Homo sapiens: one gene and its partner. The protein of the gene in region 2 purifies or fractionates together with the protein of the main gene of each other region. This does not show direct contact. Each region holds a gene or a part of one and is shown on either strand. Other genes may lie near its edges.

Region 1 (3,500 bases), on a different chromosome or scaffold from region 2:
CCCAGCTTTCAGGCTTAAACCTTCTTCTCTTAAGATGTGGTTTATGTCTCACTTCATTTGGGTGGCCCTCTCTGACCATTGCTCTTTTGCTGATAGCACTTTGGTTTTTAATCATGTGCCATGCTACTGTGCATGTACTACTACTTCTCTCTAAAATTAGACTACCACTCTCCAAACCAGCACCTTTCAGGCAGGGATTTTACCTTATAATTCCTTGTATTTCCAAACACAGCTATACAAAATCAAAAAATGTTGATGACAAAAATTTAATCTTTAAAAAATGGCTTATTTCTTGACTTTTTCATCTGAAAAATAACCAATTATTATTAAATGTGAAACAATTACCTTTAAAAATGCTGGAAGCAGCCTCCATTTTTCCTGTGAGCCAAAACAAGAAGAATATCAGAACTCTGTACCAGCAACAGTACTTTCATAAGTTATTTTAATGTTCCAAAATAAGCAAAGGAAAGTAAATCAAAACAAAAAGAATAATTTTTAAACATTTTTATGGAAATCACATGTGTGCATATGCATATAAATATGTATACACATACATACATACACTACAGGTTTCCTAAACAGAATATAACTTAATCTCTTCCTGATGACTCAAGATTTTAAGCACTTTTCAATCCTTTATTTTATTCTCATGACACTTCCTAAGTGAAGTTTGCCAGTTTGAGAAAAGGAAAATAAGGCTCAGAGAGTCTGGTGGGAGAGCTGGGTCTCAAGACCCAAAGGGAGTTCTTTCTCCCTCCCATTCTCTCTCAACTACTGTCTGGTCAGAGCTCATCTCAGGGCTACAGAAGGATGACACATATGGTGATTGCTTCCTACATTGCCTGAGCAACTAGAGGGATAGAGTTAAAATTGATGGAGGCGAGGAACATTGTAGGAATAGCAGGTTTAGGTGTGGAGGGGCTACTAGAAATTTGGTTTGGGTGTGTTAAGCTTGAGATCTCCATTAGACATTCAGGTGGAAATGTCAAGGAGGCAACAAATGAGTCTTGAATTCGGGAATGGAGTGGCCTGGAGATATAAACTAGGAAGAGATTAACAAGTGGATGGCAATTAAAGGCACGTGATGGATGAGATCACCTATGGAATGTAGATGGAGAAGAGTTCCACAAAGTGAGACCAACCAAGAATAATCCAACAATCAGAGAGGAGGAGCAGGAGGCAGCTCCAGCAAAGGAGACCGAGGAGTGGCCAGGGAAGGTGGCAGACCCCTGGGTATAGTCAAAAACAAGAGAGGCAGGCAAAGCTAATCTATGATGACGGAAATCAAAAGGTGCTTGGGGGGATAGACTGAAAAGGGTCATAAGGGAACTTTCTGGGGTGATGCAATGTCCACATAGAGCACATAACTATAAAACCAATGTAACTGAATATCTAGTATCCATACATTTTATTATATAAATTACACCTAAATTTAAAAATAGAAGAATGACAATGATATAGGTTGAATTGTGTCCCTCTCAAAATTCATATGCTAAAGTCCTAATCCCCAGTATCTCAGAATGTGACTGTTTTTGAAGATGGGGTCTTGACAAAGGTGATTAAGTAAAATGAGTCATTAAGGTGAGCCCTAATCCAATACAACTGGTGTCCTTATAAAAAAGGAGAAATTGGACATAGAGATGCACACAGGGACAATGCCATGTGAAGATGAAGGTAGAGGTCTCAGTGAAGCTTCTGCAAGCCAAGGGATGCCAAAGATTGCCAGCAAACACCTGTAGTAGGGGACGGCCCAGAGCAGATCCTCTCTCATAGCCCTCAGAAGGAGCCAGCTCTGTTGTCACCCTGATCTCAGACTTCTAACTTCCAGAACTATGAGAAAACAAATTTCTGTTGTTTAAGCCACCTAGTTTGTGGTTACTTTGTTACGGCAGCCCTATGAGCTAATACTCCCACATCTTCAAATTCCTCTCTCTACACCCCTTCTTATACTCGTTTCCTCCCACTTCAAAGGAAGGACCATCCATTCCTTGGTCTAAGGCTAACCCTTCCGCCACAGACACAATCCTGCCAACCTTCTCCTGAAGACTGGAAACCTTGCCCCAGTTCAGTCCTTGATATTCAACCTGTTCTATTTAAAACGAGTATTCAAATCCTCCCATTAAAAAAAAAATTTAAAACTTTCTTGACTCAGCAGCTCCTCTGACTACTTTCTTCCCTGCCCTTCAGCTTACGATCTCTCCCAAATTACTCCATATTTAGCTTCTCTGTTCCTCACTTCCCACTCCTTCATTCCGTTATAGTCAGGACTCTGACCTACCTGCCAGTGAAAGAGCTCGACAGAGGTCACCAAGGCTGCTACTTCAAAAGACCTCCCTTGATGCCCCCTCACATTCCCTTTCCACAGTATTTGGCCATGCCGATCACTGTCTTATAACACTCTGTGGTATCATTCTCTTATGTCTTTCCTTCCTCCGGCCGGGCCTTGTCACACCTCTTTTTCTCTGCCACCCTGCAAATTTTGGTGTTCTTCAAAGTTCTATCCCTGGCGATGTCTTTTCTCAAGTAGGGCTGGGAATGGAGGATTTCAAACAACACTGTTTGAAAGTGTTGTTTAGCTTCCCCCATCTCATCCCACAGCCCCCCAGTTCCAAATGTGGGCTCTTTCAAGGGCAGTGACCCTGTCTATCCTGTTACCACAGTGCCTGGCACATAAAAGACTCCAATAAATACTGAATAAATAAATGAGTGAGTGAATATCACTGTTGCAGTAAGCTACTGGGTATGGGCCTGTCCCCTCCAACTATTGACTGGGCAGTGATACCTTACAGCCTCAGAGGCTACTTAAGATCAGTATGTCCAAAATTAAATCTTCCCCCAGCTCCATTCTCAATCTCAATGAATATCACCATTTATCCCAGTCAATCCCAAATTAGATACCCGGGAGTCCTAACTTTCTGACTCTTCTTAATCAACAGGAAAACAAAAATTCTACTGAGTCGACCTCCTTTTAACCTTCCTCGCATTTATCCTCTGCTCCTGTGCCAGTTGAGGCCCTCATAATCTTTCAGCTGGTCTGCGGCAATACTTCCTTACTACTCTTCCTGCTCGTCCCTTTCAATGCTCAGCACTAAAGCCAGTGTACATGTCCTCATGTGCACAGCTGAGCACCTCATTCTCTACAACTCTTCAGTGCCTCCCCACCCTCTTCACCATGTCTTAACTCCACAGCGAGGCATACATCATATGCTGTGCTTGCAGCTGTACTTGTGCCTACGCCTCCTCCTTCTATCTGGAATGCTTCCGCACCACCACACTTCATCCACATCTGGCAAACTCAGTTCAGGCATCACATCCTAGCTACCATTTGTAATACCAAAATACCCCTCGCCTACTTGTATCACAGTACCTATTGCATGTTATTCCACTTGCTTACACGTCTCTCTCTATAAGCCTATAACACACTGGGAGGCAGAAAACACATTTTTTGAACTTGTATAAACCCTGTGAATAATACACCACCAGGTAAGTACTCAGTAACA
Region 2 (3,500 bases):
GACACTGAGTAGCCAGTCGTTTGAACCACAGTGGTGTGGGGTGAGGGCATGGGATTTCTGCACATTCTTGGGGCCTAGGTCTTGTGTCCCTCTGCCAGCTGCAGTCCCTGTGGCTGCGTCTGTGTGTCTGAGATGTTGTGAGCACAGTGGGGTTTAGCTGTGGCTGTGACGCTCACTAAACTGTGAGCTCTGGCATTGGCTTTGGGATGTCGGAGAGTGCACGTTTAGGCAGCATTCCTGTCACTGGTCCTCACTAGTAATAACAAAGATCCTTGATGATGATGGTTTCCAATACACGAGCCAGGTACAAGGCTAGGGGCTTCACATCTGTTATCTCTCTTTATTTTATAACTCTGCAGCCTGGTATTTCACATTTGCAGATGGGGAGACCGAGGCTCAGAGAGGTGAAGTGACCCTCTTGGCAGTCACACAGTGGGTGGTGGAGCTGGCCTTGGAACCTGGACCTGTTTTGTCACCCGAGGCCCTGCTCCTTCCAGAGCTCTGCATCCTTCTGAGGTTCCTTACCCTGGTCCCCTCCACAAACTCATTTTCACCTAAAAAAGGAGATAATCATGGCTTGCTTGTGGTTGTGAGGGGCTCAGATTGCCTGGGAGCTGGGCCTGTGGTCACTCTGTATCCATGTGTACTTGTGTGTCTGTGTTTGTATGCATGCAGGTCGTGTACAACGTGGGACTCTGCATTTGTCTGTTTGATATCACCAAACTGGAGGATGCCTATGTATTCCCTGGGGATGGCGCATCACACACCAAAGGTGGGTATCTTCTGTCCCTGGGGCATTGGGCTTCTTGGGGCTCAGTTTTCTGTAGCCAAAGGTCAAGCCAAATCCAGGTTCAGTGGTGCGTGCCTGTAAGGCTGAGGGCGGAAGGATCTCTTGAGCCACAGAGTTCAAGGCCAGCCTGGGCAACATAGCAAGACCCTGTCTTTAAATACATAAATAAAATATGAAAAAATTTTAAAAGGCTAAAGTCAAAGAGATGGCCAGAGGGTGGTGGGAGTCCTGGAGGCTGGGAGACGTGGGGCCTCATCCTGAATCGGCCAGGAATTGACCCGGTGACAGCGGCAGACTTCTCTTCTCTGGGCCTCTGTTCCCTCATCTGTGAGGCCTGGGATGTGGACTAGTTGGTTTTCAAGGCCTCTTCAGCTCTGACTTCATAGCTCTGTGTCTGTGCCCTTTTGGTCTCATTGCTACTGAGCCCTGCACCTTGTCCATTCCTCGGGCTTCCCGCTGCCTGTGGAGAGCAGACGGAAGGGGGATCAGCAGGCTGGCTGGGGGTGGGGGACTTGGATAGTAGGACACAGTAGGTAAGAGTGTGGCCTCAAGATTAAAAGCTGAGCTCTGCTTCTTACTAGCTGTGTGTCCTGGCTGAATATGTCATTGCTCTGTGCCTCTGCTTCCTTATCTGTCAGTTGCAGTTCAGGATGTCAACTGCAGTTTAGGATAGATTTTATATTCTAAGACCATTGTGAGGATTAAGGAGTTAATACATGAAAGCTCTTAGGACAGAGCCTTGGCACCTAACGAGCACTCAGTGACTTATCAGCGTGGATTGTTTCTCCCTATTCTGTCGGTCAGTTGGGTGGTTTTCCTCTCATCTGGCTGGCCTGGGGCTGGACAATCTAGGACGGTCTCACATTCTGAAGGTTGGCAGACTGGTTGGTTACTGGGGGCCTGGGCTGGGCTGGCCCATCTCTGCCCCACATGGTCTCATCTTTCAGTAGGCCAGGCTGGGCTTGGCGGTTTTAAGGTTCCAAAGTTCAGTGCGTAAGTACTTCTCAAGCCTCTGCTTCCATCCCGTTGGCTAGGGTGAGGGGATGGAGAAATAGACTTCACCTCTGGGTGGGAGAAACTGCAGTCACATTGCAAAAGGGTGTGCATCCAGGAATGGAAGGTGATCACCAGATCCTGGAAGGAGGGAGGAGTAGAGAGAGGACCACCCTGAGAGGAGCCAGGACCACCAGTCAAGGGAGGTGATGAGCCCCAGGAGAGGGGCATTCTTCATTCTCATGTCTGGACCAAACCAGTGTATAGGAGATGGTGAGAGGCCCATTGAGACGGTTCAGGCTCCCAGAGCGCAGGCGCCAAGCCTGCCATCCCTTGGGCACTCAGAGCGCAATTCTCAGCCTGCCCCAGGCCTCCCTCCGCCTGAGTCAGAATCTTGGGGGATGGGTCCAAATACTTTTTTTTTTTTTTAAGACAGAGTCTTGCTCTGTTGCCCAGGTTGGAGTGCAGAAGTGTGATCTTGGCTCACTGCAACCTCCACCTCCCAGCATCAAGCAATTCTCCTGCCTCAGCCTCCCGAGTAGCTGGGATTATAGGCACGTGCCACCACGCCTGGCTAATTTTTGTATTTTTAGTAGAGGGGGTTTCACCATGTTGGTCAGAATGGTCTCGAACGCCTGACCTCGTGATCCGCCCACCTCGGCCTCCCAAAGTGCTGGGATTACAGGCGTGAGCCACTGCCCCCAGCCCCAAAGACTGTTTTAACAAGGTACCAGGTGGTTGTCACACGAGCTCATGTTGGATAAGCCCTGCTGTAGTCCATACTGGTCAGCCTCTCAGCACAGAGATGCCAGAACATTCCAGAGTATGCTGTGAGACTGCCTAGTGTCTGTGTCCAGCCATTCAGGGAATTAATTAGTTCGCATGGATGTTACCATGGTACGCCGAGAGGCCGAAGAAACAGGCTGTCTTTGTACAGACTAGGAGCATTTTCATTAGCAGAGAAATAAGATTGCAGTGTGAAAACAACCACGAGGGCCTCTGTTTACAGAGAAGGATGCCGAGCTGAGCCCAGTCTCCGCATTTGGACAGGGGCCTTGGTTGTCCAGGAGACAAGTGGTAATAGGTACTAGAACTTCCAGAAAAACTTGGAGAAAAAAGTCAAGTTGCGGCCGGGTGTGGTGGCTCACGCTTGTAATCCCAGAACTTTGGGAGGTAAAGGCGGGTGCATCACCTGAGGTCAGGAGTTCTAGACCAGCCTGGCCAACATGGCAAAACCTCATCTCTACTAAAACTACAAAAAAAGCCAGGCACGATGGCTCACTTCTGTAATCCCAGCACTTTGGGAGGCCGAGGCGGGCAGATCATGAGGTCAGGAGATCTCCTGGCTAACACGGTGAAACCCTGTCTCTACTAAAAATACAAAACATTAGCCAGGTGTGGCGGCAGGCACCTGTAGTCCCAGCTACTCAGGAGGCTGAGGCAGGAGAATGGAGTGAACCCAGGAGGCGGAGCTTGCAGTGAACCGAGATCGCACCACTGCACTCCAGCCTGGGCAACAGAGTGAAACTCCGTCTCAAAAAAAAAAAAAAAAAAATTATTTGGGTGTGGTGGCACATGTCTGTAATCCCAGCTACTCCGGAGGCTGAGGCAGGAGAATCGCTTGAACCCAGGAGGCAGAGGTTGCAGTGAGCTGAGATTGTGCCACTGCACTCCACCCTAGGCGACAGGGTGAGACTGTATCTCAAAAAAAAAAAAA

What was found.
Region 1: the proteins of POLR3H (region 2) and POLR3B purify together in Homo sapiens (affinity purification with mass spectrometry; 8 studies listed by BioGRID and IntAct, with this or other methods). This does not show direct contact.

What each region holds. Positions count from the first base shown.
Region 1 is NC_000012.12:106,360,748-106,364,247, reverse strand, and holds part of POLR3B (DNA-directed RNA polymerase III subunit RPC2), read right to left. Parts: intron 379-3,500; coding exon 346-378; intron 1-345. UniProt on the Homo sapiens protein: Catalytic core component of RNA polymerase III (Pol III), a DNA-dependent RNA polymerase which synthesizes small non-coding RNAs using the four ribonucleoside triphosphates as substrates.
Region 2 is NC_000022.11:41,537,971-41,541,470, reverse strand, and holds part of POLR3H (DNA-directed RNA polymerase III subunit RPC8), read left to right. Parts: intron 1-675; coding exon 676-772; intron 773-3,500.